Homo sapiens: one gene and its partners. The protein of the gene in region 1 binds, or shares a complex with, the protein of each later gene. Each region holds a gene or a part of one and is shown in the gene's direction. Other genes may lie near its edges. The genes, in order: GALR1, GAL and GNAO1.

Region 1 (10,033 bases):
CTCAGGGTGTCCCGCAACGCGCTGCTGGGCGTGGGCTGCATCTGGGCGCTGTCCATTGCCATGGCCTCGCCCGTGGCCTACCACCAGGGCCTCTTCCACCCGCGCGCCAGCAACCAGACCTTCTGCTGGGAGCAGTGGCCCGACCCTCGCCACAAGAAGGCCTACGTGGTGTGCACCTTCGTCTTCGGCTACCTGCTGCCGCTCCTGCTCATCTGCTTCTGCTATGCCAAGGTGCACGCCGGTCGCGGGGCCGAGACGCGCGAGGGAGGGCGGAGGGCCGGTGGGGGCCCTGGGGTCTCAGTGTCCCGCGGCCCTGCCGGAGCCTTGGCGGCAGCCTGGCCCCGGTGGTCCCCACTCTGGCGGCGCTGGTACGGATCTGTGCAGAGAGGCTTCCTGGCCGCTGCTGGAGCGTGCCATTGGCTTGCGCAAGAAAGTTACTTGGAGTCTGAGAGATGCTGGGGAAAGTTTGCAGTTCACTTCGCATGGTCCAGTAGAACCAGTTTCTCCTCCCCTCCCCTTCCTCGGCCCTGCGGCCCTTCAACGCCCCCAGGTTGCCTGGGCGGTAGGTAGGCGGGCGCTGCCGCATCCTTCCCGGTACAGCAAACCCCGCTCGGTTCCAGCAACTCTTCAACCAGATCAGCTGCGCGGGGAGGTTACCGCCGCGGCGCTGTGGGACCTGAGGAGAGCTCTGGTGGTCACCAGAGCGCGGACCTTTTGCGAGGGTGACGGGTCCCCACAGCTCCCTCCCGGGCTCTCAGCTGGCCGTGGCGGGGGGGACTCGCGGGGCGGCCCCTCTCCCCCGGGGTGCGCAGTTTGCCCTCGCTCCGAAGGCTTTGCGCACACCGGGCTCTGTGAAGCCGCTGCTCCCGGGGACAGAGCCTCGAATTTTATTTTATTCTGAAGCTTAGCTTTGTAAACCCAAGTGCAAAAGGGTGTTTCTTTACAGAGTCTTGACCGCAGGCTCCAGGAACTTGGAATGGAATGGACTCGAGCTTTCGGCTTCCCCATTTCAATCCTTTTTAGAAAGGTCTCCTGAACAGGGTGAAGTGGTTGAGGCGGCGGGTCTTCACCCTAACTGTAGCAGAGGCACCGTCCACGCGTGTGGGAGATAGTTTTTCCCTTTGTACAGCCGGGCAGAGCTCAGCACTCACATTCTTTTTCTCATTAAGTCCACAAGGGTTTGAAGACTTTATACTGATCAAAACGTCTTCAGCCTTTGACATACGTGTTTTTATTTGCGTAAACGGGAGCTTATTTTAATAATCAGGTGATGGCGATTCACCGGGTAAACCCTAATGTGCGCAACCTCCTCGCTCCAGAGCATCGCCATTTGAAATACAGCTGTTACCAGTTCCACCCGACTTCACCGCTGTCTCTCATTCTGTTTCAATAAGGCTGTGACTATACGACCACAAATAACCTGACTAGGTAGAACAACTATCACTTTTAATACTCAAGTCACAAGGTATTTTTATCAACAAAAGTGTTTACTATAAGCCACCTGTTTCCCCCCACCTATTTCATCTAGGTAGATTGTGTCTATTTTGAATAATAATATTGCTGGATATTATCTGAACGGCCTGCACCAAAAGGTTAAATATGAAGAAATACAGTACCACTTTGGGAGGCCGAGGTGGGTGGATCACCTGAGGTCGGGAATTCGAGACCAGCCTGACCAACAGGGTGAAACCCCGTCTCTACTAAAAATACAAATATTAGCTGGGTGTGGTGGCGGGCCCCTGTAGTCCCAGCTACTCCGGAGGCTGAGACAGAAGAATTGTTTGAACCCAAGTGACGGAGGGTGCAGTGAGCCGAAATCGTGCCACTGAACTCTAGCCTGGCTGACAACGGAGCGAGACTCTGTCTCAAAACACCACCACCACCACCACCACCACCATCACCACCACCACCATCACCACCACCACCACCACCACCACCATCACCACCACCACCACCACCACCACCATCACCACCATCACCACCACCATCACCACCATCACCACCATCACCACCACCACCACCACCACCACCACCACCACCATCACCACCATCACCACCACCACCACCACCACCAATATAGTAGCAGTAAGGGAATTTGGAAAAGAACTCTAGCTTAGCTATTTGGAAAATGGCTGGTTTATTAACGTGGTCTTCCGCAGATGCTAAACAAAGGCTATCTTACATAGCACAATTATCTGATATGTGCACCATCTCATTTAATTTGCACAACTCTGTGGCTTGGAGCTATTTTATTATTTACCCGTATTTTATTATTTAAGGAAAAAGAGCTTTGGAAAGGAACACCTGACCCAGATTATGAAGCTGGTGAATGATTCTGGAAGGATTTTAACACAGGGATTCCCAGTCTTCTGAGGACGGGACAGTTGGTGAGGCCTTGAGGACATTGAAGTCTGAGATTGAGATTCTTAACATATATGGCTGTTAAGTTCCTAATTACTGTGGAGAACTGAAGCACACGCTTCCTTATTTCCCCAAAGCCTTCAGGGAGAAGAGCTAAAATCTTCTTACTGGAAATGACAAAGTAAGATTTTAGGAGTAAATTGAATTCAGCATAATATTCATAATATTTGCAAGTTAATTTCAGGGCTGTCATGGATAGGTGGAGATTTCAGTTATTTCAAGTTGATTTTCTTTGGCTCAGGCATTAGGTGTGCACCATCCAGTTAAGGATTTTGCTACTTGAGTATTAGTTTCAGGATTAGCTGTTCCTCCAAACCCCAGGCCTTTTGGATAGCCTGAAAAAACACAGATGGCTAAAAGGGAACCTGAGGTTATGATGCTTTAAATAAACAAAAAAACTTAAGACAATTGCATTCCAGAGTTGCCTTTTGCCTCCAAATTCTCACAAGTTTGTAAGGGAGCAGTCTTTTGCACCAGACAGTTTCTGGGAAACTCATCGAATACATGGGTGGGAGGATGAGTCGAAGTGGTCTGCCCAGTGCCCCCTGAAGAGCCCTCCCCTCTGCTGCTATGGAGCTGTTCTTCACCAGGTCTGTGCCCCTCGCTCACTTCCCTTAGAGTGAATTACTGTCCAGAATCTCCTTGGTCTACCATGAGGATAAACTCAATGGGCCCACTCGACTAAGTTACTCCGAATCCCCAGGATGTAGCCAGCAGGACCTGGGTTTGGTTTGAGCTAGCACCTTCCTGTGCACACTCAGAAATTTACAGACTCACCAAGAGACCCCAGTATGTTATTATCACTCTCTTCTTAAACGTCGTCATACCCTATCATGGTACCTACATTCTTCCTCCTTTGCTGCTGAGACCTTCAGTGGGGTGCATCATAATATATCATTCTGTGCTCATAGTAGGAGCTATTGAAGAGAAGCAGAGCTAATAAAAATAGACTTGAGTATTTTCTCCATTGACCATTTAACAGCATTCAACATTCTTGGGTGTTTTGAAGTGGCTGAGCTGTGATCCGAATTCCTTTTTGGAAGGAACAATTGGAGCTCGGCAGCGTTATGAAGCTGGTCACATTTGGACATTTTGTTGTGATTTGTCCAGGTGTCCCTCTTTGATTTTGCTTGTGCGGCCTCTCCTGTTGTCTCTCCTGTGTCCTCAGTGACCAGTGTTGTCCTGTGGTTTCCCATTGGGAAGGCTGCCACTGAGCCATCTAGGCAGTCCTGTCCTCTTGGGCAGGGTCCTGCCTCCTCCAGCCCTTTCCTTCCCCTTTGAAACGCTCTCATTTGCTCCTGCAGGAAATCCCTGTTCTGTCGTTGCCTTGCATTCAGGTTTTGATACTCCCATTTCGGCTGGTAGAACAGTAAACTAACACCTTGTCAATGTATTGAGTGTTTTCCCAAATGCTCCTGCGGCACGTAAACACTTGTTTTGTTGCAGATGTTGCTGAGTCATTTCAGGAAGTGGGAAGCATTTCGGTAGGGGAGAGAATTTAAAGTCAGAAATTCACGTCCCTGGGGTGGCTGCTTGTTCACCTGCATAGGGCCTGGGCAGCTGGTAAATATATCCTGTGGCTTCCAAGTAAGGTGTGACTAATTGCTCTGAAAGTGCCTCATCTGGCTGAATGGAGCAGGCTTTTGCAATAAGTTCAATTCGATTAAATTATTTCCATGCTACAGGGAACAAAGAACTGGTTGGAACATGGCTTCCGGTTCCTTGAGAGACTTCTCAGCAATCTACAGATGCTCTAAAGCACTTAGTCGCCCTGGGGCTAGATTTTCTCTAGATTTTTCCCTCAGATGGGATATAGCAATGAACTTAAGTGACAGTTCTGCAGGCTTGACAACGTTGTCTAAGACCAAATATATGTTGGAAATTCCTACATCTAAAACCCCACATTTTCATATCATTTCTCCTGAGTATTACACTGGCAAGAAAAGACAAAAATAGTTTCTGTAATTGAGGGAGTCAGTGTGTTTCAAGGAGATTCCCTGACAGGGACATTAATTGTCAAACCTTGCAAAAATGTTCTGTAAATCATCAGTGACGCTGAATCCCCAATAAGTTGTCTGAAAGCACAGCACAGTGGGTAGGATTTGAATAAAGAATGAAAGGAAGCCTGATGGGAGGTGATTTGCCATACGGAGAATTGCAGTGGAGGCAGCCCATAAGAGGAAGGAGAAAGAATATTTTGGCACAAACGCTGGCAATATTTGGGTTGGCTGCACTGAAGAAATGTCTGATGATATTATCTTCATTTGTTTACTTGCCTGCTTTCCGCATCAGATGGTGAATTTTGGAAGGGCAAATCTCTAGTTTTTCGATGCATCCAGGATCTAACTTTGTGCCTGACATGTAGCAGGGACCTGGTGTTTATTAATATATGGGGTCCTGGAAGAAACCAAGGAAGACAATAGTGTAATAAGCACACCTGAGTGGGTCATGGCATGGCTGTTTCTGGGCAAAACCCCAGAGCTCCACGCCCTGGGCATTCTCTGCAAACAGGTGCTATGGCTGTGAACTTGTCTGGCTGTGCATCAGCCTTCCTGGCTGCTCCTAAGTGTTAGAAAAGAATGTATTTGGCAACTCATGTTCATTGTTACCTAATTACCTAATTTGAGTTTTTATTTTAATGATCTTATAAATAGTGATGTTACCATTTCAGCATGTCAATAATTGTTAATGCAACATAGGCAGTGGGTTATGAGAGGTGAGGCGAACTGATTTCAATAGTCTGTGTCTTTCAGGTCCTTAATCACTTGCATAAAAAGTTGAAGAACATGTCAAAGAAGTCTGAAGCATCCAAGAAAAAGGTAATGATCACAAATATATATATATATGTTACTTTTCAGAGCTTAGTTTACCTTTGTTTTTTTTACTTGTCCTCACGTCCATCCAAAGCCTGTAACATTTAGGACCCTTGGTGTGGCTAAGGAGGTTTGAGATGAGCCTCCCACCGTTAGGATGGGAATGGAGGGTCGGCCTTGGCAAGGGCACCGTGGGTCACTCCGTGCTGCATTCAAACTTAGCTGAAGATCTGGGGAGATGAGGAAATGCGGATTCTGCTGATTGTGCGCCTCACCAGGAGGTGAGTGCACTTAGGTTGACTGAGACAGAGTGCAGAGTGCAGAGTTGCTGACATGCATACTTAGAGGGAAAGTATAGTCATTTTGTTTTATGTTTTCAATCTCTGATGTGATTCCGAAAAGCCCTGGTTTGGTTCTTGTTTAAGACAACATTGTTATAATCCCTCCCTAAAGCCACCAGAGTGCTGGGCCATTCTTGCCTCTTTCACCCACATGTGCTGACTCTGACCCGGCAGGTAAAGACTGAAGAGTGGACAAGGCTGAAAGCAGATTCCTCCCGTTGCTAACTGACTTTCTCATCCCCCAGCCCCGATTTAAACAAGCTTCTCCTGAGTGGTATTACAGCATCTAACTTATTGATGGTCATGATATTCTACATTTTGGGGGAAAACTATTTCACAAATCAAGGTTAAATGAACTCTTACTCAGAAAATATCTATATAGCTTCTAATTTTAGGAAGTAGAATGAGATTATTAGGCAATATGACTAAGGAGTAGGAGGTTATAACCAGATATTTTAACCCAAAAGTGTAATAATAACATCTTAAAATACCTTGTTTTTTCCTTATATTTATTATGATCAATGACATACCTAATTTATAGAAATTATAGTTTAGATCATGTTTAATCATGTTTACTTAAAAATTCTACTTGAATAAAGGACAGCTCTTCCTGACTTTCCTTCTTTATGAACAGTAATGTGGCTAAAAAGCCATCTGATAGTCCAGAGTCAAAACCAGTGGTAGAGAATTGGTTATAGAGCACAAACATTAAGACTTTTTTTTTTCCCTGGCAGCAAAAAATTAGCTTATGTTAGAAATGCAATCATACAGTGTTTAGGATAACCACCTAAGAATACAAGGTGCAGTATAAATAACAAGACCATGCTATGGCTTTATTCCATTGATCCTTTCTTACATCTGAACAATTATTATGAATATTTCATTTTAGGCATCTAGGCCCCGCATTAGAGCAGCTGACCAAGTGCTAAGTTATATGAATGGAATAAACCCTGTAAGTTGGTGCTTTCCTCCTCTCTTTTTAGTGATGTGCTGTTATGGTAGAGATTTTCCATTTTTCTGGTATATCTATTGATTTTTCCTCTGAGTCACACTTCTTATTTCTAAGACAATGGTTCTTTAAAGACAATTAAGGATAGTTTCTGACTTCTCCTAGGACAGTTATTTTTAGAGCACCTGCTCTGTGTAGGACCAAGCCGATCCAGGGGATTCTAAGAGGAACTGGCTCCGCATGGAAGCCAACATTGTAATGGAAGAGATCAATGTGTGAGTCCCAGAGGCCTGTTCAAGGGGGCAGTGTTTGGAGCATCAGGGAAGGGAGAGATTAATTTCCCTTGGGAGGGATTGGGCTCGTCAAACTTTAACTGAGAAGACACCATTGATCTGTGATAAATGTGTGTTAATGATTCAAAAGATTTTATGCTTACCAAAAGAAATAAAACCAAACATTTATTTAACATTTGCTGAATCTTACTTGTGTCGATGGTAGTTTTAGTCTCCATATTTGAAAAAGTATTGGAGAGAAATTGTGAAGGTCTCAGAGAAGAACAAAATACTGAAAAAATAGGTCTTATAAAAATGATTAGAAAAGCTTCTATTTTATTTTACAATAAAAAACCTAAAGATCAGTGATTAGTTCAGTCATTAGTTATATACACATACACATATATACACAAATATTTAGATTTATGTGAGTATATGTATATATAATACATATGTGCTTACATATATACATATACTAAATATATCTATATAAAATTATCTTTTGCTTATTCTTACCATGAGGATCTAGCATTTGAAGAAGGGATGAAGATTTTCTTTTTCGTTTTCACAGCCTCTGACCCTTAACAGCTACTGAACAGATGTCAGATCTTTGTTGATGTATTTAATTGCCTCCTTGTTTGCACAGAATAAATAAATGTGGTGGTGGTGGTGGTGATGATGGTGGTGGTATTGGTGGTGGTGATGGTGGTGGGTGGTAGTGGTGGTGATGATGGTGATCATTGTGGTGATGGTGGCGATTGTGGTGGTGATGGTGGTGGTCATAGTGGGGGTGGTGGTGGTCATGGTGGTGATGGTGGTGGTCATGGTGGTGATGGTGGTGGTGGTGATGGTGGTGATGGTGGTGGTGGTCATAGTGGTGGTGGTGGTGGTCATGGTGGTGATGGTGATGGTGGTGGTGGTCATGTGATGGTGGTGCTGGTGATGGTGGTGATGGTGATGATGGTTATGGTGGTGATGATGGCAATTGTGATAGTGATGGTGGTGGTGGTGGTGGTGATGGTGGTGGTGGTCATAGTGGTGGTGGTGCTGGTGATGGTGGTGATGGTGGTGGTGATGGTGGTGGTGATGGTGGTGATGATGGTGGTCATAGTGGTGATGGTGGTGGGCGGTAGTGGTGGTGATGATGGTCATGGTGGTGATGATGGTGGTCATGGTGGTCATGGTGGCGATTGTGGTGATGGTGGTGGATGGTGGTGGTGGTCACAGTGGTGGTGGTGTTGGTGTTGGTGGTGGTCATGATGGTCATGGTGGTGATGATGGTGGTCATGGTGGTCATGGTGGCGATTGTGGTGATGGTGGTGGATGGTGGTGGTCACAGTGGTGGTGGTGTTGGTGGTGGTCATGGTGGTCATGGTGGTGATGATGGTGGTGATGATGGTGGTGATGATGGTGGTGATGATGGTGGTCATGGTGGCGATTGTGGTGATGGTGGTGGATGGTGGTGGTGGTCACAGTGGTGGTGGTGTTGGTGTTGGTGGTGGTCATGGTGGTCATGGTGGTGATGATGGTGGTGATGATGGTGGTCATGGTGGCGATTGTGGTGATGGTGGTGGATGGTGGTGGTGGTCACAGTGGTGGTGGTGTTGGTGTTGGTGGTGGTCATGGTGGTTATGGTGGTGATGATGGTCATGGTGGTGATGATGGTGATCATGGTGGTGATGGTGGTGATGGTGGCGATTGTGATGGTGATGGTGGTGGTGGTGATGGTGGTGGGTAGTGATGGTGGTGGTGGTCATAGGGGTGGTGGTGATGGTGGTGATGATGGTGGTCATGGCAGTGATGGTGATGGTGGCGATTGTGATGGTGATGGTGGTGGTGGCGATGGTGCCAGTGGTGGTGGTGACAGTGGTGGCAGTGGTGGTGGTGGCAATAGTGATGATGATGGTGGCAATTGTGGTGATGGTGGTGATGGTAATGGTGGTGGTGGTATGTGTGTGTCTAAGAAAGAGATGGGAGAGAGGAGCAGAGAAAGGGTAAGAAGAGGGTGTGGAAGCAGAGGCGTGATGAGAAGGGAGGTGGCGGAGAGAGGGGGACAGAGGCAGGAGAGGTGAGACAGGGGAGACTCGGGAAGGAAAGCAAGAATACATGGCAACTTCCCTGAAGACAGGAACTGGGTTGGTCCATCGTGGGTATTTCCCCAGGTCTCAGCACAGAAAATTGCTACTGGTGCACACGTGTTCATCATTTGATTGGTAATGGAAGATGTGACAGGGATTTGGCTACTTGTTTCCAGCCCTTTCTCTCAATGTATAAGTAAAGTTCCCTTTCTCAGCTCTGTATCCACTGGTCTTAGTACGTTCAGGCTGCTTTAAGAAAATACCATAGTCTGGGTGGCTCATAAACAATGGAAGTTTATTTCTTGCAGTCCTGAAGCTTGGAAGCCTGAAATCAAGCTCCTGCAGATTCAGTGTTTGGTGAGGGCCGTTTTCTGGTTCATAGATGGCCCCTTCTCTCTGTATCCTCACAGAGTGGAAGGTGAAAGGCAGCTCTCTGCGCCCTCTTTCATAAGGGGACTGGTCCCATTATTCATAGGGTGGGAGGTGTAAGGCAGCTCTCTGGGCCTCTTTCAAAAGGGCACTAGTCTCTGTGTCCTCATAGGGTGGGAGGTGTGAGGCAGCTCTCTAGGCCCCCATTCATAAGGGCACGGATCCCATTATGAGGGCTCCCCCCACCTCATGACCTAATTACCATCCAAAAGCCCCACCTGTTAATACCATCACCTTGGTGATTAGGTTCCAATTTATGAATTTTTTGGACGGGGTGGGGACATAAACTTTGAGATGGTGCCGCCGTCCATACGGGGCTTTCCTGTTGAGAGTTATAATTATTATGGGGTGGGGAGATTGGTCTTTCATGATAAACATGCTAACAGTTATTCTCCATGTTTGGAGCAAGTGCAAAAGAAGAATAGGATTTCTACTGCAGGAATAAAGGGCTAGGATTGATCACATGCTTTTCTTAAACTCTGCTAGACATAAAGAAATGTTTCTGGCTCAAAGCTGATTGTTAAAACCTTGGAAGACCTCAAAATGGGATAGACACCCATACTGGATGGTTGCTTCCTGGAGAAAATTGGATTAAAGGACCTCTTGATGTCCTATCAAGCCACTGGGTTCTTTTAATGTTTGCTTTTTTTGTTGTTTCTTTGGCTTAAAGTAATTCAGTAAGGTTTTTGGATGTCATTTATACAATTTGTGAGGTTTTTTTTTTTTTTAT
Region 2 (10,512 bases), on another chromosome or scaffold:
CTGTGATTATGGCTTGCTTTCACATTTCACAAAAAATTTACAACTACGAAAACACATGGACTTAGGGCCCTGCCTGTGGCAGAGCCTGTACTGGCCCACACCAACATTCCATGTCCCCCTCCTCCTTCAGCTCCAGAACTCAAGTGAGCTCAACATCATCCATAATAAAAGACCCTGTTTCCAACCTGTTTCCAAGCCTCTGTTGTGGCCGGGCATGACTCTGGCCAGCAAGATGCATGCAGAAAGAATCTTCCAGAAGGCTGCTTTAAAGATGGCATTCTGTTACCCAATGTCCTCAAACCTCCAAAACTTGCTCTTCCTCCTCTTCTCCCTTCTCAGCTTGCACTCGAAACTCCAATTTCTACTACCTTAACCCCTTAGTAAAAGCACCCAATTGTTTCTGTGAATGAAACAACCCTGTATAATGAACCCATTTAACAAGGTTCTGTCGAATAATCGAATACATATATTAAAAACTCATTCATAGAATGGTATAATTCTATCCATTGATACAACTTTCACCTTAGCCAGATCCTTTGCCAGCTACTCATTTTTTTAGGGGAGCGACTCTAGGGTCTTTTTTCATGACTGCTGTGTTACTGGAGTGGGGCTGGGTGGCGTGGAAATCAGGGAATGGGGGAATCAAGGACACAGACATTTGCAGGGTCAAAGAAATGCCAATTTTAGGTCATCGAGCCATTTCCTCATTTCTTGAGTAGTAACGAGATGGTCGTGGGACTGATAGGTGGTATCGTTCGTCACGTTATCGTCCAAACCTCTCCCTCTGATGAGCCCGTCTTGCAGACATGAGCTTCTCAGCAGCGGTGGAGGTGGTGTACCCTCTCACGTGTTTTTATTCATTCATTCATTCATTCATCAAACATTTGTTGACCACTGTGAAACTGATTGGAACAATTCCTACCGCACGTGATGGAAAACCTCTATGGGCCATTGGCTTAAATAAGAGAGATGCTTCTTCTCCTCTGTTGTGAAACAAGCCTGGAAGTGTGCAGCCCAGGGACCAGGCTCAGGGTCACTGGGACCCAGGCTCCCTCGGCCTTGATGTGTCACCTGAAGCCATCACCTCATGGTCCAAATTCGTTGCCCACCTCCAGCCTTCACGTCCACACTCCAGGCAGCAGGAAGAAGGAATGGAAAAGGACCAAAAAGGGGGCGTACCCATGTAACCCCCTCCACCTGGAGTGTGCTGGACCTCATTCTGTACCCAGTCAGTCCTGCTCACCTGTCAGGTTCAGCTCCCCTAATCCATGCATCTCCTTCCCACGACAATGGGGTGGTTATTTGTACAATAACCATTTGTTGCATACAGTTGGCCCTCCATGTCCACAGTGGGTTGGTTCCAGGAAACCCCTGGCCACGCAAATACCGAAATCCGTGGATGCTCAAGTCCCTTATATAAAATGGCATAGTATTTGCATATAACCTACGCACATCTTCCCATATGCTTTATTTTTAATTTAACTTTTTTATTTTTGAGATGAAGTCTCACTCTGTCACCCAGATGCTGGAGTGCAGTGGCGCCGTTTCGGCTCACTGCAACCTCTGCCTCCCGGGTTCAGTTGTACAAGTGATTCTCCTGCCTCAGCGTCCCGAGTAGCTGGGATTACAGATGTCCGCCACCACATCTGGCTGAGTTTTTGTATATGTAGTAGAGAGAGGGTTTTGGCATGTTGGCCAGGCTGGTCTCGAACTCCTGACCTCAAGTGATCTGCCCGCCTCGGCCTCCCAAAGTGTTGTGATTACAGGCATAAGCCACCGCGATGGCCCTCCCACATGCTTTAAATCATCTCTAGATTACTTATAATACTGAGTATAATGTAAATGCTACATGAATAGTTGTTATACCGTATTGTTTAGGAAATAATGACAAGGAAAAAAGTCTGTACGTATTCGTACAGAGAAACCCATCCTAGGCCTACCTACAAGGACCCAGTCCATAGTGGGTTGAACCCACAGCCAGGGAACTCACAGATACAGAGGGGCCAACTGTAATGGGTCTCCGTGAGGGTCTAACTCCGCAAGGGCAGGGACCCTGCTGCTGATTTCACCACTGCAGCTCCACTGCCAGGCAATGGACGGTTGAGCTCCCGTGCAGTGGGCATGGCCCAGGTGACCCTTGACCCTTGCTTGAGTTCTCAGCTTCAGGGTGGTTTTTCCTGGTGGTGGACAGCGCTTCTAAGGAAGATGGGCTGGCTCGAAGGCAGCGGGGGACATCAGGCTTTCTGCTTGATTTCGATTACTCTAATGGTGACCCACTTTGTCTGCTGCACACTGGGCTGTCTTCAAGATGACAGGTTGACAATGACTGCCATTGGGTCATTACTGAGCAAAGAGCCATTAGCACACTGGCTGTGGTTCCAGCACAGTCTGTGCCGGGAGGCAGGTGTCTGTCATCCCAGGTGTGCTGGCCTCATTTGTCTGAAGGAATCTGCCGACCTCAGGAAACCCCAGCACGCCTTCAGGCCACTGCCTTGCTTGTCTGTAGCCTTCCCATGGTCACCGCACTTCCGGGCCAGGGTCCCAGCCAGGGTTTATACCGAGACCCACTCACCCAGACTAAGCGGGAAGCAAGACGGTGGGTGTCATCCCACGTGGAAAAAGAACTTAGGGACCTGGAGGAATCAGGCATGGGCATGTTTATTTTGAATACATGTGTCTAATTATTCAATGGAGCTTTCTTAAATGAATTCAAAATACATGTGAAGATTTGTTTCCAGTTGCTTAATGTCTTTTTAATAAGGAGGCTCTGACCAGATAACCTACCCTGAAATTTCTTTTTCGTTTGTTTTTTGTTTTTTGTTTTTCGAGACGGAGTCTCGCTCTGTCACCCAGGCTGGAGTGCAGTGGCACGATCTAGGCTCACTGCAAGCTCCGCCTCCTGGGTTCACGCCATTCTCCTGCCTCAGCCTCCCAAATAGCTGGGACCACAGGCGCCTGCCACCACTCCCGGCTAATTTTTTGTATTTTTGGTAGAGACGGGGTTTCACCATGTTAGCCAGGATGGTCTCGATCTCCTGACCTTGTGATCCACCCGCCTTGGCCTCCCAAAGTGCTGGGATTACAGGCATGAGCCACCGCACCCGGCCTGAAATTTATTTTTCTTTTTTTCCTTTCTCTTTCCTCACTTTCCTTCCTTCTCTTTTCTTCTTCTCCTTCTCCTCCTCGTCCTCCTCCTTCTTCTTCTTCTTTCTTCTTCTTCCCTTCTCTCTCTCTCTCTCTCTCTCTCCCTCCCTCCCTCCTTCTTTCTTTCTTGACAGAGACTTGCTCTGTTGCCTATGCTGGAGTGCAGGCTTGATCGTGGCTCACTGTAGCCTCAACCTCCTGGGCTCAGGTGATCCTCCCACCTCAGCCTCCTGAGCTGAGTAGCTGGGACTACAGGCACGTGCCATCATGCTTGGCTGATTTTTAAAAAATATTTATTTATTTATTTTTAGTAGAGATGAGGCCTTGCTATGTTGCCCCAGCTGGTCTTGGACTCCAGGGCTCAAGTGATCTATCTACTCACCTCAGCCTCCCAAAATGCTGGGATTACAAGCGTGAGCCACTGCGCCCAGTCTGAAGTTTCTTTGAAAGCAAAAAAGGAAACAAAAAGAGTACATAGGCCCAAATGAAGACAGCTGAAAGTTTAATGTACCTCAAATTCCAGCCCATGACTAAGGGATGGACTTTGAGTCTCTTTTCGAATCCATCTCAAGGATTTAGGTTTAGAGTTTGTGCTCCTTTAAACAGACTAAGAGCCTCTGTGACAAAGTAAATAGAGAAAATAAGTGTAGTCAAGCTCTGGCAGGATTTGGAAGGGGGCCTAACGTGGAAGAAAGGAGAAGGCTGGAATTGACTAAGATGTGCTATGCACTGGGCTGGATTTGTTCTCAGCAGAAAGCAAGAAAGAGCTCTGGGATGGTAGCAGGGCTCCCACTACCACCGGGGGCCAAAGGTTGCAGTATTTCTCAGGTAGCCAAGAGGCACCCATGAGCCCAGCCCCTGCCCACTCCCTGATGTCATCTAGACACAAGGACATGGGGCATGAGAGGACATCATTGTCACTTCTCTGCAGAGTCACAGGAACGTGCCCTCTGCTCCTCCGCCTCTCGGCTGTCCTTCTGCCCACGGCTGGCCCAGACTCTCATGGCGACTCACTGTCTCCCACGCCCCCACTCCCGGCAGGAAACCACTTCAGGGTTTACTGTGGGCTCCGAAATCAGCCTGTGAGTCCTAGTTAGGGTCCCCTGTGCCTGACTCTCCTCTCCCCAGGCTGCAAGAAATAGGGATGACCAGAAGTCAAACTGTGCCCTTGGGAACACCCCACCCCTCACCACTGTCGTGCCAGGAGTCTGTTCCTAAGACCCCTCCCCAAGTCCTGTCTCCTCCTCTTCCTCCCATAAACCACAGCAGACACTCAGCCACCAGGCTGCAGCCCTGCACCTTCTCCAGCAGCCGCTGGCCTTCGCCAGAGTTCTTGAAAGCCCAGTTGTCCTTCCCCAGCCACGTGGAGGCAGACGGATCTCTCCTGGGGGCAGCCTGTAGCTGTCTGTGCAAAGGTTCCCAAGACTAAAGTGTAGAGGACAGGTAAGATGACACTGTCATGATCATCATTCGTCCTGTGCCCTGTGGACATCAACCCACAGATGTGACATCAACCCATCTGATATTGAGCCCAGTGGGTGGGGAGATCCTAACCCAGCTGCTGCTGTTGAGGACTTGGGTGGTGTCTGGCCAGTGGGAGGGGAGGTCAGGCGAGTTTTCAGCAGATGACCCCGTGCTCTTCGGAAGCCCGGAGGTGCCACACTGTACAAGTGTGATGCCTGGGATCCTGTGCTCCCCTGATGCCTGGGAATGGGGTGAAGGAACAGCCTAGGCTTGGGTTCTCTCCTGGGTTGTTTCGGGACTTGGCCCCAGCTCAGGAAGGGTTTGTGGAGGAGCCAAGGAGGGCCTTGTTCCTGTGGGATGTCTTTGCCTTGGGCACAAGGACAGCCTCTTGCTGCTGCTCTGCCCACCGCCCACCCCTTGGCGGCCTCTGGGAGTCTGGGCTGCTCTCCCTCTGGACCTAACCAGTTGCCCAATGGCTGGACCTGCTTAAAGCTCCCTCTTACAACTGGACCAGGCAGCCAGGGGAGGCACTGAGAGGCCGAGCTTCTGAGCTGGTGCCTGTGGATGCTCGACGGTCCCGCAGCTCCCACAATGGGATGGCCAAGCAGACCCTGAGATCCACAGCCCCCCTTTAGTGAAACAGGAGGGAGGTCGCTGGGCACAGGGAGCCGGGAACGCCTGCCCTCCCCGCCATCGACGGCTCCCGAGGCCTGAACCTTCGCTCCAGCCCCAGCACAAGCCGGCCAGGGCGCAGGGCCAAGTGTTGCCCGCCATTCCCCGGGTACCCCATGACCTCCCAGCTGGGGCTGGCTCGGACTGAGGAGTCGTCCCTGCCCGTCACCCTCTGGGGTCTCCAGTGCTGCGGAGCTCAGCTGGCTTTTGCAGCGGTAGGGGCTGGGAGGAGAAGCTGCAGGGAGACCGCAGGCGTGGGACGTTGTGGGGGGTCAGGCTTGCTCTGGGGCTGGGACCCCGGGGGGAGCAGTGGGGTTGACGCCACAGCGATGACTTGGGCCACGGGTCTGGGGGCTCTCCCGCGGGGCGATTGGGCTCTGTCTTTCGGGATTAGGGTCTCTCCCACAGGGTTTGGGGTTCTCTCTGCAGATTTGGGGGAGTCTCTCCCGCGGGATGAGGGGGGGCTCTCCGCCGCACCCGCCTATGATGGCCCAGAGGACCCGAGCTCGGGTCACTCCCGTCGCCCTCGGGGCTCGGCGAGGGTGCAGGAGGCGGGCGCTGAGCCGGTGACGCGACTCCGGGCGGCTCCCGGGTGCGCCGCATATATAGCAGCGGCGGCGGTGGCGGCGGCCACACCGGGCGGCGGACACGTGGAGGGACCCGGCCCGCGCCTTCTGCCCCTGCTGCCGGCCGCGCCATGCGGTGAGCGCCCCAGGCCGCCAGAGCCCACCCGACCCGGCCCGACGCCCGGACCTGCCGCCCAGACCCGCCACCGCACCCGGACCCCGACGCTCCGAACCCGGGCGCAGCCGCAGCTCAAGGTACTACTGGCGCCGGGCCGACCCTGCGCCCCCGGGAGGCCTCCCCTTCGGCTTTCCTCTGCCCAGGGACGGTTCTGCCAGGGCCCTGGCCCGGCCGCCGCCTCTGCTCCTCCCCGCAGCCCCGGCACTCCTTGCCTCGGGGCGCAGCCCACTCCGGGTTCCGACCCGCCCGCCCTGTCCTTCCCTTCCAGATGGCCCGAGGCAGCGCCCTCCTGCTCGCCTCCCTCCTCCTCGCCGCGGCCCTTTCTGCCTCTGCGGGGCTCTGGTCGCCGGTAAGTGCGGGGCGCGTCTCCTCCGAGCGAAGGGGACATCAGAGCCGGCCGGGCGTGGAGGGCTTCCTGGAGGAGGCAGCCTCCGCCCTGCCCGCGGGGATGGGGGTGGAAAGTGGAAAGGCGGGCGCTGTCCTGGCTGCGGGCGTCGCGGGAAGGGTCCGGGGCTCCCTGGGATTCCCCCCGCGCGCTTCTCCGAGTGTATCAACAGCCCCGGGCTATAACCAGGCCGCCGGGAGAGCTCTGCGCTTCGGGTCAGCGCCTCGGGAAAGCGAGAAGCTCGCCCGTTCCGCAGGGCTTAGTTAGAATGGAGGGCTAGGAGCCACTGGCGTGGCCTCAGCGTCACTAAAGCAGGTGCAGTGCGCTGAGAGTGCGCGGGCTCAGGCCCTCAAGTGAAGTATTTCGTAAATAAAGTGGTTCCATTTTCATGTCAAATATAGCCGACTTAGGGGTAAACCTGGAATTTCGCGAGCTATCCAAAAGCACATGCATTGTTCTAAGTCCTCTGCCATGCCGGGAAAGCCTGGGTGCACCCATTCAGCATAGGCTCCAGGCACAGCCCTGGCATCTGATCCCCTTTTCTCCCTTCAAGGCCAAGGAAAAACGAGGCTGGACCCTGAACAGCGCGGGCTACCTGCTGGGCCCACGTAAGTGACTGACAGCATGGCCTCCCCACTCCTGACCCCACCTGCCCCTCGCTTTGAACCCTGGCTCCTGCCCCTCCGCCTGCGGCTGGGCAGACCCTCTGGCCTCCCTCTTGACCTCATTGCCCGTCTCCATTGCTCTGCACACTTGATCTGTGTACGGTTCTTTCCAGAAGCTTCTCCTGCCCCGGCTCTGCCGCCCTGTCCCGGGGTGAGATTCCCACCCTGGGCTTTGCTCAAGTTCTCCTGGGCTTTCCCGCCTTGCAGTCCTTACAGGCCCTGTTCTGGGCCTCTCCCCAGGCCCCCGGGTCTCCCAAAACACTCAACTCCTCGGCTTGCAGAGCACCCTAGGTCAGCGGACCCCAAATCCTGCCTCCCTCTTCCCTTTCTCCAAGCTCCACACGGGAATTGCCAGATCGCCTGAAGGCAGCCCAGACAGGCTCCCCTCAAAACAAGGTTCAGGTGACCCTGCCTGCCCAAGCCTGTGTCCCCTCCCTCTCCCTGTCCTGTTGTTGTCACCTGTGTCAGCGGTGTCCCCTGCTGCCTGAGGTGAGCCCTAGCCCTAGATGGGACACTGCAGGCTGACACCTCCCCGTGTCCGCCCCCGCCCCTGTCCCAGGCCTCTACTTTCTCCACATCCTTGGTCTGTGCAGCAATGCCTTCTGACTTTCCTCCAAAGGAGGGGACAAGAGGAGGCCTTGGTTCCCTCCTGTAACTCACCTTCCCCTCCACACCTCACCATCCACCTTAAAAGCCTCCCTGTACTGCCTTCTGCCAGAGGAAGGATGTGAACAGCACGCAGGGCCTATCTGAGCCCCGCGGAGCAGCAAATGGGGAGAATGGTGCTCTTCTCCCCATGCCAAGGAAAGCTGACTTAGTTCTCAGTCCCAGAGTCGAATACAGCTTCCTCCTCCTGCAGACGCTTGTTTATCGGGGTCACTCAGAGGACCCCCAGAGTCAGGCTTTAAGAAACAGACACGGGGATGACAGAGCCGCCTGAGGCCGCGTGCGGATCGGTCCAGGCTGTTCACCACAGAGCCTGCTGGTCTCTGTGCGGCCCTCTCATCCTCTCCCTGCCCATGGAGTGGCCTGACCTGCCTGAGGGTCGGCTGATTTCCTCAACCCTTTGCAACCCTGAGCTCTGCCACTCAGAGGGCACCTCATCTTTGTGTGCTACGGGCCCAAAACAAAGGCAGAACTGGTCAATGAGAACATTTATCTGTGTTGCTTTGGAATATTGAAAATCTATTTGTCAAGAAGAGTTTGACCCCTAATTAGAAAACAAACTCATTTTCGCCATCAATTTTACGGCCCTGTTCAGCTGTAGCTAGACGAGTTGTTTGTCAAAATACTTAAAAATGTGCCTTTGATTTCTAGGATCTGCTAGAAATGCAGCAAAAGCAATGTTTTTGCACCAGCTGCTGCTGAACGCAGTGTGGCCGTGGCTGAGGGTGCATCAGTGACATGAGGCGACCTATGATTCCTCTATAAATTTAGCACCAAGAACGGCATCTCTGGAAATACGCGTTAATTCTCCTTTGTCTGGCCTTGTAGATGGCACAGTCCACCCAGGCCAACCAGCTGGAAACACAGAGGCGTCCTCACCCTCGTCCCCATCTCTCATTTCCATTTCCTTTCCTGCACAGCCCCAAATCCAGCCCTCCTCTTCACCCCACGCCTCTTGGTTTACAGCCTTCATCGTTTCTTCCCTGGAATTCTGGGATCTCTGTGCTTGCAATCACAGTTCCTCCATTTTCGCACCACGAAACACACCCACACACACACGGGAACGCACACACGCTCCTGCACCCCCCACCCCCATCCTGTCTCCCTCTGTGACCCTCTCGCTCCCTCTGTCTCTCTCCTTCTCTCTCTCTGGCTCCAGTCCATCTTGCACACAGCTGCCAGAGTGAAAATAAAAATCAGATTCAGTCACAACTTAAACTCTTCAGCGTCCCCCATGCTTTCAGGGACATGAGGACCCAGCTCCTGTTGTCTGCCAGGGAGTCACCCAGTTTGATGCCAGCTCAGTGCCAGCTCAGATGCCAGCTCCTCTGGACCCAGGCGCAACCCCTGCAACAGGGCAGGTTCTGGGCCTCTCCCCCACTTCAGGAGCCACACCTCCCTTTCTCCCACCCACCCTGTGCAAACCCTCACATTCCCTTTGACCCTGGTGTGAGCGGCCAAGCTCTTACCTCAGCTGGGTGGAGAATCGCTCCCTCTGCTCTGGTGTCTGTCCCTGGGCTCTATTTCACAGTCGAGTTGCGTGTGTGTGTTGGCTACAGGCAGCCCTGTGTCCTTCTTTGGGTGTGGGGAGGGCGTGCATGACAGTCACACCCAGAGGCTTTCCTCTCTGATCTGCAAACAGATGCCGTTGGCAACCACAGGTCATTCAGCGACAAGAATGGCCTCACCAGCAAGCGGGAGCTGCGGCCCGAAGATGACATGAAACCAGGTGAGAGGACTCCTATCCCGGGCCCCGGGGCACCTCACTTCCACCAGCTCCCAGGTGCATGCAGGGGACAGCTGTGGGTGTCGGGGCTGTCCACAGCTGCAGCCCAAGCCTGGCCATGACTTGACTAAGACGATGTGGCCTCGCCACACCTGTCAGCAGCTGCAAACAGAACGTGCAAACCCGAGACAGCAAGGGGTCCTTCTAGGCTGGGAGGCTGCCCAGGCACCAGGGCCTCCAGAAGAGCGGGACTGGGCACGATGGCTCCTGCCTGTAATCCCAGCACTCTGGGAGGCTGATGCGGGTGGATCACCTGAGGTCTGGAGTTCAAGACCAGCCTGGCCAACATGGCAAAACCCTGTCTCTACCAAAAATATAAAAATTAGCCAGGCGTGGTGGTGGGTGCCTGTCATCCCAGCTACTTGGGAGGCAGAGGCTCGAGAATCACTTGAACCTGGGAGGCGGAGGTTGCAGTGAGCCAAGATCATGACACTGCATTCCAGCCTAGGCAACAGAGTGAGACTCCATCTCAATTAAAAAGAAGAAGAAGAAGAAAAGCGAGGCCTCGAACTGGATATCTCCCCAACTCCCTCACATTGAACAAGGGCCTTGGAAAGCACAGCAGGGCCTCAGGCTGCTGGGATCAGATCATTGACCTTGCAGCGCCCAGCTCCTCTGTAGGGAGGGGGATGACCTGAGACACTGAAGCACCCTCTGCACAAGTCGTGAATGTTGATCTTTTCTCTTCTAGGAAGCTTTGACAGGTCCATACCTGAAAACAATATCATGCGCACAATCATTGAGTTTCTGTCTTTCTTGCATCTCAAAGGTATGTGAAATATCATCAACTTAACATTCATCTCTTAGTACACTGGAAACGTAAAAGGCCCATCGAGAAGAGAACCCATAGAATCCCCCTGGGAAGTAGCCGATTACTTATCTACGTACAAAGTCCTGTTTGGCTGTGTGTCGGGATAACAGAGAATGTAACACTAGAGCTAGCTCCAGAGGGCTGGGATTGCGGCAGGGGCATTCTACCGTCGTGG
Region 3 (7,000 bases), on another chromosome or scaffold:
TGTCCCGGGAGCTGCATGCGTAGCCCTTTTGGCTGTGAATGAGTGCGTGAGGCCAAGACCCCTAAGACCCACTTCCTCAGTCGCCCCCACTCCCTATGGCCTGGAATGGAGGTGATGTCTTTTCCACAGTGACCTGGAGGGGCCCTGACCGAGACTGGACTCTGAAGATGGGTGGCCTGGCCAGTCCCGAACAGTGTCCAGGCATTTGGTCCATAGTCCCCTGTTTGTTGCCATCCTCAGCTACCTGGACAGCCTGGATCGGATTGGGGCCGCCGACTACCAGCCCACCGAGCAGGACATCCTCCGAACCAGGGTCAAAACCACTGGCATCGTAGAAACCCACTTCACATTCAAGAACCTCCACTTCAGGTGAGGCCCAGAGAGGCCCCCAGGCCCTGGCGAGGGCTAAGATGGGACATGCCCAGCCTCTCAGCGCATTGCGTTTACAGCGCCCAAACATCATCCTGCCCCAGGGAACCTGCGGGCTGGGGCAGGCAGCTAGATACTAGAAGGAACCTGTCTGTGTTTCTGCCAAGGTTAGGGGCTGGAGTGAGCAGGGAGGCTTTCTGGAAGAAGATTCCCAGAGTGGGGCTGTGAGGAACAGGGAGGATTTGGACAAGGAGGGGCAGCCTGTCCCTGAGGTGACTTCCAAGGAGGAGGAGGAGGTGGGCTACCAGGGGGCCCTTCCAAGGTCACCTTGGGGGGAGGAGCCAAGAGTGGGGCTGGGTAAGCCCAAGCTACCTCTGTGAGACCCTGAGGACCCAAGTAATCCCAGAGCTGGAAGGAGCAGAGAGAGCTGACCCACCCTCTCCTAGTACGCTTGGGAAGCTGAGGCCTGACAAGAGCAGGGCTTTTCCCAGGCACAGAGCACAGCTAGAACCCAGGGGCTCTGGGGCCTCAGAGCAGGGGCCTGACGGGTGAGCTGGTTCCCAGGGTCCTGCTGCAGCGCTGTGTCCCCACCTGCAGTAACATGCGTGCACTGAGGCCTGCTCCGTCCTGTGGGGAAGAGAGGCCAGCAGAGAAGGGGAGGGCAGGGACCCCTGCTGGGAGAGCTGGATTCTAATATTCCCTGCCTCCCATGTCCCCAACTCCTGCCCGCTCCTGTTCAGACTGAGGGGCCGAGGCTCTGGGCCCAGGAACCCCTAGGCCTCCGCAGATCTGGGGAGCAAAACCTTGGGCAGAGCAGCCCTGAGGGGCCTCTCTTGCCTTCCCAGGCTCCTTGGTCTCTCCTGCTCCCCCACTGGGAGCACAGGATGGGGATCTCAGCTCAACCCAGCCCAGCAAGGCGGGGTCTGAGAATAAGCATTCTGGAGGGGCCACAGAGGCCATCTGCCAACGCCCCTGCATTTCAGATGGGGAGGTGGGATCCAGGGGAGGATCCCCTGATTGATGGAATGAGAACCAGACCCATTCCTTGCTCTGAGCCCACACTAATCTCTGCCTGCAGTCACTCCGTTGTGTCCGGTGGGACCAGAGATCCTTCCCTGTCCCCCTCTGGCAGGCTGTGTGTCAGCAGGCATCCCAGATCTAGGAGGCTACAGGACTCCTCGCTCTGGGGATTGGGGTGGGAGACTGACCTTTTACTTCCAGGACGTAAGTCCCACCTGCCCACAGTCTCTTCCAGAATTTTTGTGCCCCCTCGGGAGTAGAGTCTGAGAGGGGGAAGAGGCCAGGCTCTGATCTGCCAGAAAGGGGCCGTACTGGGCAGAGGTGAGAGCGCCAGCTTTGTCCACAGCCAGACCCAGCTCCACCACAGCTGGACTCTCGCCAGCTTGGGCATGTCCTAAGCCCATGGGTGGCTCACTTCTGCCATCCACATAACAGGTGACATCTCCTGCCTGCCTCCCTCCCAGGCTGGTTTGGAGTTTGCCCAGAGCAAACCCAGGAAGGAATAGACTGAGAGGAGGGTCCTCATGCGAGGAGGACTCTCAGAGGCACTTCCTGGGGGTGGCTCAGGTGCGCCCTCTTAGTAAAATGCTCCTCAGATGCAAGGGCAGGTCTTTGAGTCATGATCTGTGAGCACAGCCAGTCCCAGGACAGACTCCAGGGGTAGTGCCTGGGGATGGCAGTGATCCAGCTGTCTGTCATCACCTGGAGTGACAAGGTCTTCTAGTGAGGGCTTTTAGCAAGGCTCTGAGCACCATGGCCCCCATCCTCTGCCTCTCAGCGTGCTCACAGCTTAATCCCCAGGCAGCCCTCACCTGCCTGGACCCTGCGCCTACCAGCTCCCTGCCTCCTACAGGCTGTTTGACGTCGGAGGCCAGCGATCTGAACGCAAGAAGTGGATCCATTGCTTCGAGGACGTCACGGCCATCATTTTCTGTGTCGCGCTCAGCGGCTATGACCAGGTGCTCCACGAAGACGAAACCACGGTGAGTGGCCTGGGCCCCCCGGGCAGGGGGCAGCGCTGAGGAGACGGCCGCAGGATAGGCCAGCCCTCTGAGCACTGGGCCTCGGGTGCCCACAATGGCTCTGGGGTCCAGCCAGCTGTTGTGGTTAGAGGTTTCCATCATGGACAGGCCGTGCCGGCACTCCACCAATTCTGTATTGCCAAGGCAAATGCCTCATGATGCCAGTGTGGCAGAGCCTGTGTATGCAACCTGATCACACAGAGCCGTGCAGAATGTGCCTCTTCCATAAACTTGGTGGAGTCACAGAGGCCATCAGGCCATAGCAAATTTAAGCAAACCCTAAAAAAACCAGGAGGCAGCCAAGCAAGAATGTACAGGCAACAGAAATAGCAGTCTTAGCCTGACAGCCATCCCTGGGGCACTGGCGTCAGATGCTGCTGAAGCAGCATGGGGCCGGGGATGCTGAGGGAGAGGTGGGGAGGGCCCAGGATGCTGCAGGAGAGTTGCGTGGGGTTGGGGGTGCTGGGGAGCAGTGTGTGGGGCTGATGGGCCAGGAAGGGCAATGGGGATGAGGCATGCTGGTGAGTGACAGTCGTGGCTCTGGGCTCCTTTGCCAAATGCCAGACCAGGCTCCTACCTTCTGTCTTGCGTCACATTCAGCCTAGGGCCTCAGTGAGGGGACATTCCCCTGGGAGAGTGCAGCCTTCCTCTGGGTCTAGTCCTGGCTCTGCTACTCACTGGCTTGCTGCTGAATTTAGGCAGCACCCTTTCTGGCTCAGTTACTATTTTCCATAAAAGGGAGATAATAATAGTACCTGCCTGTGGGGGGCTGTTGGCAGTGGGGTGGGTGATGCGTGTGCAGCGCTCTGGAGCTGTTTCTGGGACAGCAGCGCCAAGCTGGTGGTTGTACAGTTGCTGGTGATTGCCCTGAGCCTGCAGGTCCACTGCGTGGTCCCCTTCTGGGCTGCAGCCCGCCAGGCACCGAGCATGGCCCACAGGGTCACTGGAGACAAGCCCCAACACTCCTGACAGCGGGGCCCATAGGCTATGGGGTCACAGCCTGGCGTCTGTCATCTCCTTCTGTCTGGAACACATGCAAATCCCCCACCCCACGCCTCTGAAGGCTGGCACCGAGGGTTTGAGGTTGGAGGTGGGGCTTGTTGTCATGCTGGGCCTTGAGCGAGGCCTGTCCTCTCTCTGGGTCTGTTTCCTCGTCATTTCTGGCCCAGCTGGTCCACTGGGCTTTGTGAGGATGGGATCAACTTTGGGGTGTGGGCTACGGGGCACAGTGCTATAGGGAGGAGGAGCCGCCGCCCTGAGGGGCTTACACAGAGTGATGGGGCTTTGGGCTGGTGGTGTGGGTAGTCTGGACCCGTTCCGTGTACAGGCTTACCCACCTGACTCTTCCTATTTCAGGCCCACCTGTACCCCTGACTTGGGTTTCTGCTGTAATTGTTCTCAATGGCATCTGCAGGCAGTGATGTCAGTCACCAGCCCAGTCTTGATGCTGAGTGGGGCAAGGGTGGATGCGCTTCCTGGGCCGTGCTTGGACCCAGACTCACTGACCACCCAAAGCCCAGGTCAGCTTCCTGGCCATGTGCCCCTCACAGTGACTACCCAGACATTTCCCACTCCCCACTGCTAGACTCTATGCTATTACGGCCACTGCTCCAACTCCTGGGGTCTGAGCTCCACTTGGCTCATCTTTTTTCCCCCATGTCCACCACGGTTTCAAAGAGAGCAAAGGAGCTAGAAGCAGGAAGCCAGGAGGGCCCTTCCCCCTGGAATCCAGCCTCTCCCTGGACCTGCCCTGCCAGGCCTGTGGATGGCTTCAACCCAAGTCCCAGGCCCACCGGCCATGGGGCTGGGCTCTCGCTCACCTCTGGAAGATGGAAGCAAGGGACGTCTGGGTGAGCCTAGCAGCCACAGGCCCTGAGCTCTGCAGCCCATGGGTCCCCAGTGAGCATGAGCCTGGTGCTGGGCCTGGCACTGGGTGACCTTCCAGCCTGCGGGCCTTGCTGCCTGGAGCACTTGCCCTCCGGTCTTCTCCACCTTCTCTCACCTCCCTTTTTCCCCATTTCCCCCACCCTTCCACACAAGGGCTGGAGCAGAGGACCTTGGAGAAGCCAAAGCAAATGGAGCCAAGGTCACAGGCAGGCTCTTCCTGTGTCCTTCCTTCCCCAAGGCTGGCCACCTTTGCAGCCCGGGGAAGAGTAGCAGCTCGTGCAGGGAATGGGGATGACTTTGCAACCTGACAGCAGCCACAAAGGCAGCTCATTGCCGTGGTGGCAGCAAGAACAATACTGGCGCTGTAGAACTAAGCAGTCATCGCCGTGCGCTGGGGGCGCATGCAGAGGTGGACAGCTTGGGAGTCAGACAGATCTGGTCCAGGGTCTAGCATCACCCCTGCCGCCTGTGTGATCATGGGCAACCGCCCCACCCTGCCCGGGCCTGCACCTCCTCCTCTGTAGATGGTGACAATGGTAGAATGGACCACCGGGCTAAAAGCTGTAAAAGTGCCTGTACACAGGAATCATCACTCAGTGAATAGCTCCTGTGGCTACAACATTCAGATGCCATGGCTAGAGGTCAGGTTCTAGGATGTGGGAGCTCTGTCTGCCTCAGGGAGGCAAGAGCCAGGCCCCAGGAACTCAGGCCTTGGTCCTCAGCCATCCTCTCTGGTCAGCGCTGTGCATCCCTCTCTGGCCTGGGGTGAGAGCCTGCAACAAAGGTGTCTGGAAGCAGCTTCTGGAGCCAGGCCAGGAGAGCCCTGGGGCTAGTGGCTGCCACTGGCCATCCAGCCGCCCTGTCCGCTGCATCCCGGGAGCCCGAGAGCCTGGTCCTGGCCTCGTACCTGCTCTCAGCACCGCCCAGCCGGGCCTGCGGCTGCCACAGCTTCTCCACTACCACGGTCGCCTCCACTGCCTGCAGGGCCTTATCTTGCCAAACCAAGGCCAAAACCAGTTCTGAGAGACCCTCCAAGCCCGGAAGGTATGAAGCACCTCCCTCCAACTGAATCCATCAGCTAAGAGTTGAAAGCAGCAGGTTCTCAGGGCACCGCTGGGTGACTTTGCTGTGATGCCTGCCCAGCCCGCCCCTGCGCCCACACTCCTCTCCAGCCACTTGGCCTGGGCTCATCCCACCCATCCTGCATCTCTTGCCCTGCAATCCACAGGCCCAGGATGGCCATGGCCCCTGTGAGCCCGCACCGGGCTCTCTGCAGGAGCTAGCCAGGATGCCCTGGCCCTGAGACTGGTTGAACCAATTTTTCAGTATTTTTCTCTCTTTCTCTTGTTGGGTTTTTATCTTCTCTGTTTTCATCTGTTTTGCTGTGTTTCATCTTGGGGTTCCTCTGGCCCCTCTACTGAGAAACCAGCCCCAACAACCAGTTCTCCCAGAGCCTCCCCCGCTCCAGCCCACCAACGAGACCACCAACCACACCAAGGCCACAGCAAGCTCACCCCCGAGACGCTATTCCCTGGTGTCTGCTTCCAACTCGGGATTAATTCGAGGATCTCTTAGTCCTCAGTTAATGTTTCCCAACTGAATGCGTGCACCCTTCCAACCTTGCTGTCAAAACCGAATGAGACCCTGGTAGAGAAATCTGCATGAGCAGGGTTCCGCGCAGATGCGTTCGGTGGTGGTTGCGGCCCCTGCGCTGTACGTGCATGGTGCATGTCCTCTCCGTGAGCTGGAGCCTCTCCAGTGACCTCACTGCCCCCACCTGGGGCCAGCTCTCTTTGGAAGGGGGCAGCATCCCCCAACCCTGCCCGGCCCTGCTCCGCCCCGCCCTGCCTGCGTGTGGAATGAAACAGGACCACGTCCCGTCTGTCCTTGTGGGTCCTCCCGTCTCCGTCCTGGTGGTCTCCGTCCCGGTGGTGCATCCAGCCACATTGGTGGACCTTCCCTTTGCTTGTCCCGCTGTGTCATTGGCCGCGGTGGGTCAGGGCCCTGGATGCTGCCGCCCCTCACTCACCCCTCCACTCTGTTGCAGAACCGCATGCACGAATCCCTGAAGCTTTTTGACAGCATCTGCAACAACAAATGGTTCACAGACACGTCCATCATCCTGTTTCTTAACAAGAAGGACATATTTGAAGAGAAGATCAAGAAGTCCCCGCTCACCATCTGCTTTCCTGAATATACAGGTAGAGACCCCTCCAGGGACAGCAGGCCCCCGAGGGAGCGGGCCCCGTTCCCAAAGCCCAGTCCACCCTTCCTGTGCTCTGTGGATGCCCCTGACTCTGCCACAGAGAATCCACACAAACGGTCCCCCACCCTGCCCCCAGATTGTGCTCTAGAGAGGAGGGGCAGCTAGCCGGGGCTTCCTCATCAGGGAAAGCCGGTAGAGCCCTGGCTCTGCCACTTACGAGCTGTGTGACCATGGCGGCCTCTGGGAGCCTGAGCTCCACTGTCTGCGCACAGGGGCTCTCTGTGACGAGACGAGCAAACGCCGAGAAGATGAGGGGCGGGGCACAGAGGCTTGGAGTTAGGCAGCCCAAGGTTTATGCCCCAGCTCCGCCACTCACAAGCAGCTCAGGCAGGTCATGCAGCCTCTCTGAACCTCAGTCTCTGGGTCTGTGAGATGGGGTGATGGCTGTGATTGCCCTCGCCTCCCTCACCAGGTGCTATGAAGAGGGAATGAGCTG

The links.
Region 2: the proteins of GALR1 (region 1) and GAL are in contact, whole or in part, in a cryo-EM structure (PDB 7WQ3), measured with the Homo sapiens proteins. Residues at the interface, in NP_001471.2 of Homo sapiens: Glu32, Gln92, Thr94, Val95, Tyr96, Leu98, Pro99, Thr100, His112, Gln174, Phe177, Arg180, Gln184, Phe186, Cys187, Trp188, Glu189, Gln190, Ile266, His267, Ala270, Phe275, Leu277, Ser281, Phe282, Arg285; in NP_057057.2 of Homo sapiens: Gly33 (codon at 6,978), Trp34 (codon at 6,981), Leu36 (codon at 6,987), Asn37 (codon at 6,990), Ser38 (codon at 6,993), Gly40 (codon at 6,999), Tyr41 (codon at 7,002), Leu42 (codon at 7,005), Leu43 (codon at 7,008), Gly44 (codon at 7,011), Pro45 (codon at 7,014), Val48.
Region 3: the proteins of GALR1 (region 1) and GNAO1 are in contact, whole or in part, in a cryo-EM structure (PDB 7XJJ), measured with the Homo sapiens proteins. Residues at the interface, in NP_001471.2 of Homo sapiens: Thr70, Arg133, Ala136, Ile137, Ser140, Arg141, His226 (codon at 5,184), Leu227 (codon at 5,187), Leu231 (codon at 5,199), Asn233 (codon at 5,205), Ser235 (codon at 5,211), Lys236 (codon at 5,214), Lys237 (codon at 5,217), Ser238 (codon at 5,220), Ala240 (codon at 5,226), Ser241 (codon at 5,229), Lys244 (codon at 5,238), Thr245, Thr248, Leu306, Ser307, Glu308, Asn309; in NP_066268.1 of Homo sapiens: Ser264, Asn316, Glu318, Tyr320, Asp337, Asp341, Ile343, Ile344, Ala345, Asn347, Leu348, Arg349, Gly350, Cys351, Gly352, Leu353, Tyr354.

The regions. Positions count from the first base shown.
Region 1 is NC_000018.10:77,250,984-77,261,016, forward strand, and holds part of GALR1 (galanin receptor type 1), read left to right. Parts: coding exon 1-231; exon of another isoform or gene 232-468; intron 469-5,174; coding exon 5,175-5,240; intron 5,241-10,033. UniProt on the Homo sapiens protein: Receptor for the hormone galanin. The activity of this receptor is mediated by G proteins that inhibit adenylate cyclase activity.
Region 2 is NC_000011.10:68,678,632-68,689,143, forward strand, and holds the start of GAL (galanin peptides preproprotein), read left to right. Parts: upstream 1-5,912; 5' UTR 5,913-6,101; intron 6,102-6,292; coding exon 6,293-6,373; intron 6,374-6,962; coding exon 6,963-7,017; intron 7,018-9,209; exon of another isoform or gene 9,210-9,372; intron 9,373-9,382; coding exon 9,383-9,469; intron 9,470-10,160; exon of another isoform or gene 10,161-10,217; coding exon 10,218-10,295; intron 10,296-10,512. UniProt on the Homo sapiens protein: Endocrine hormone of the central and peripheral nervous systems that binds and activates the G protein-coupled receptors GALR1, GALR2, and GALR3.
Region 3 is NC_000016.10:56,334,489-56,341,488, forward strand, and holds part of GNAO1 (guanine nucleotide-binding protein G(o) subunit alpha), read left to right. Parts: intron 1-240; coding exon 241-369; intron 370-2,242; coding exon 2,243-2,372; intron 2,373-6,345; coding exon of another isoform or gene 6,346-6,499; intron 6,500-7,000. UniProt on the Homo sapiens protein: Guanine nucleotide-binding proteins (G proteins) function as transducers downstream of G protein-coupled receptors (GPCRs) in numerous signaling cascades.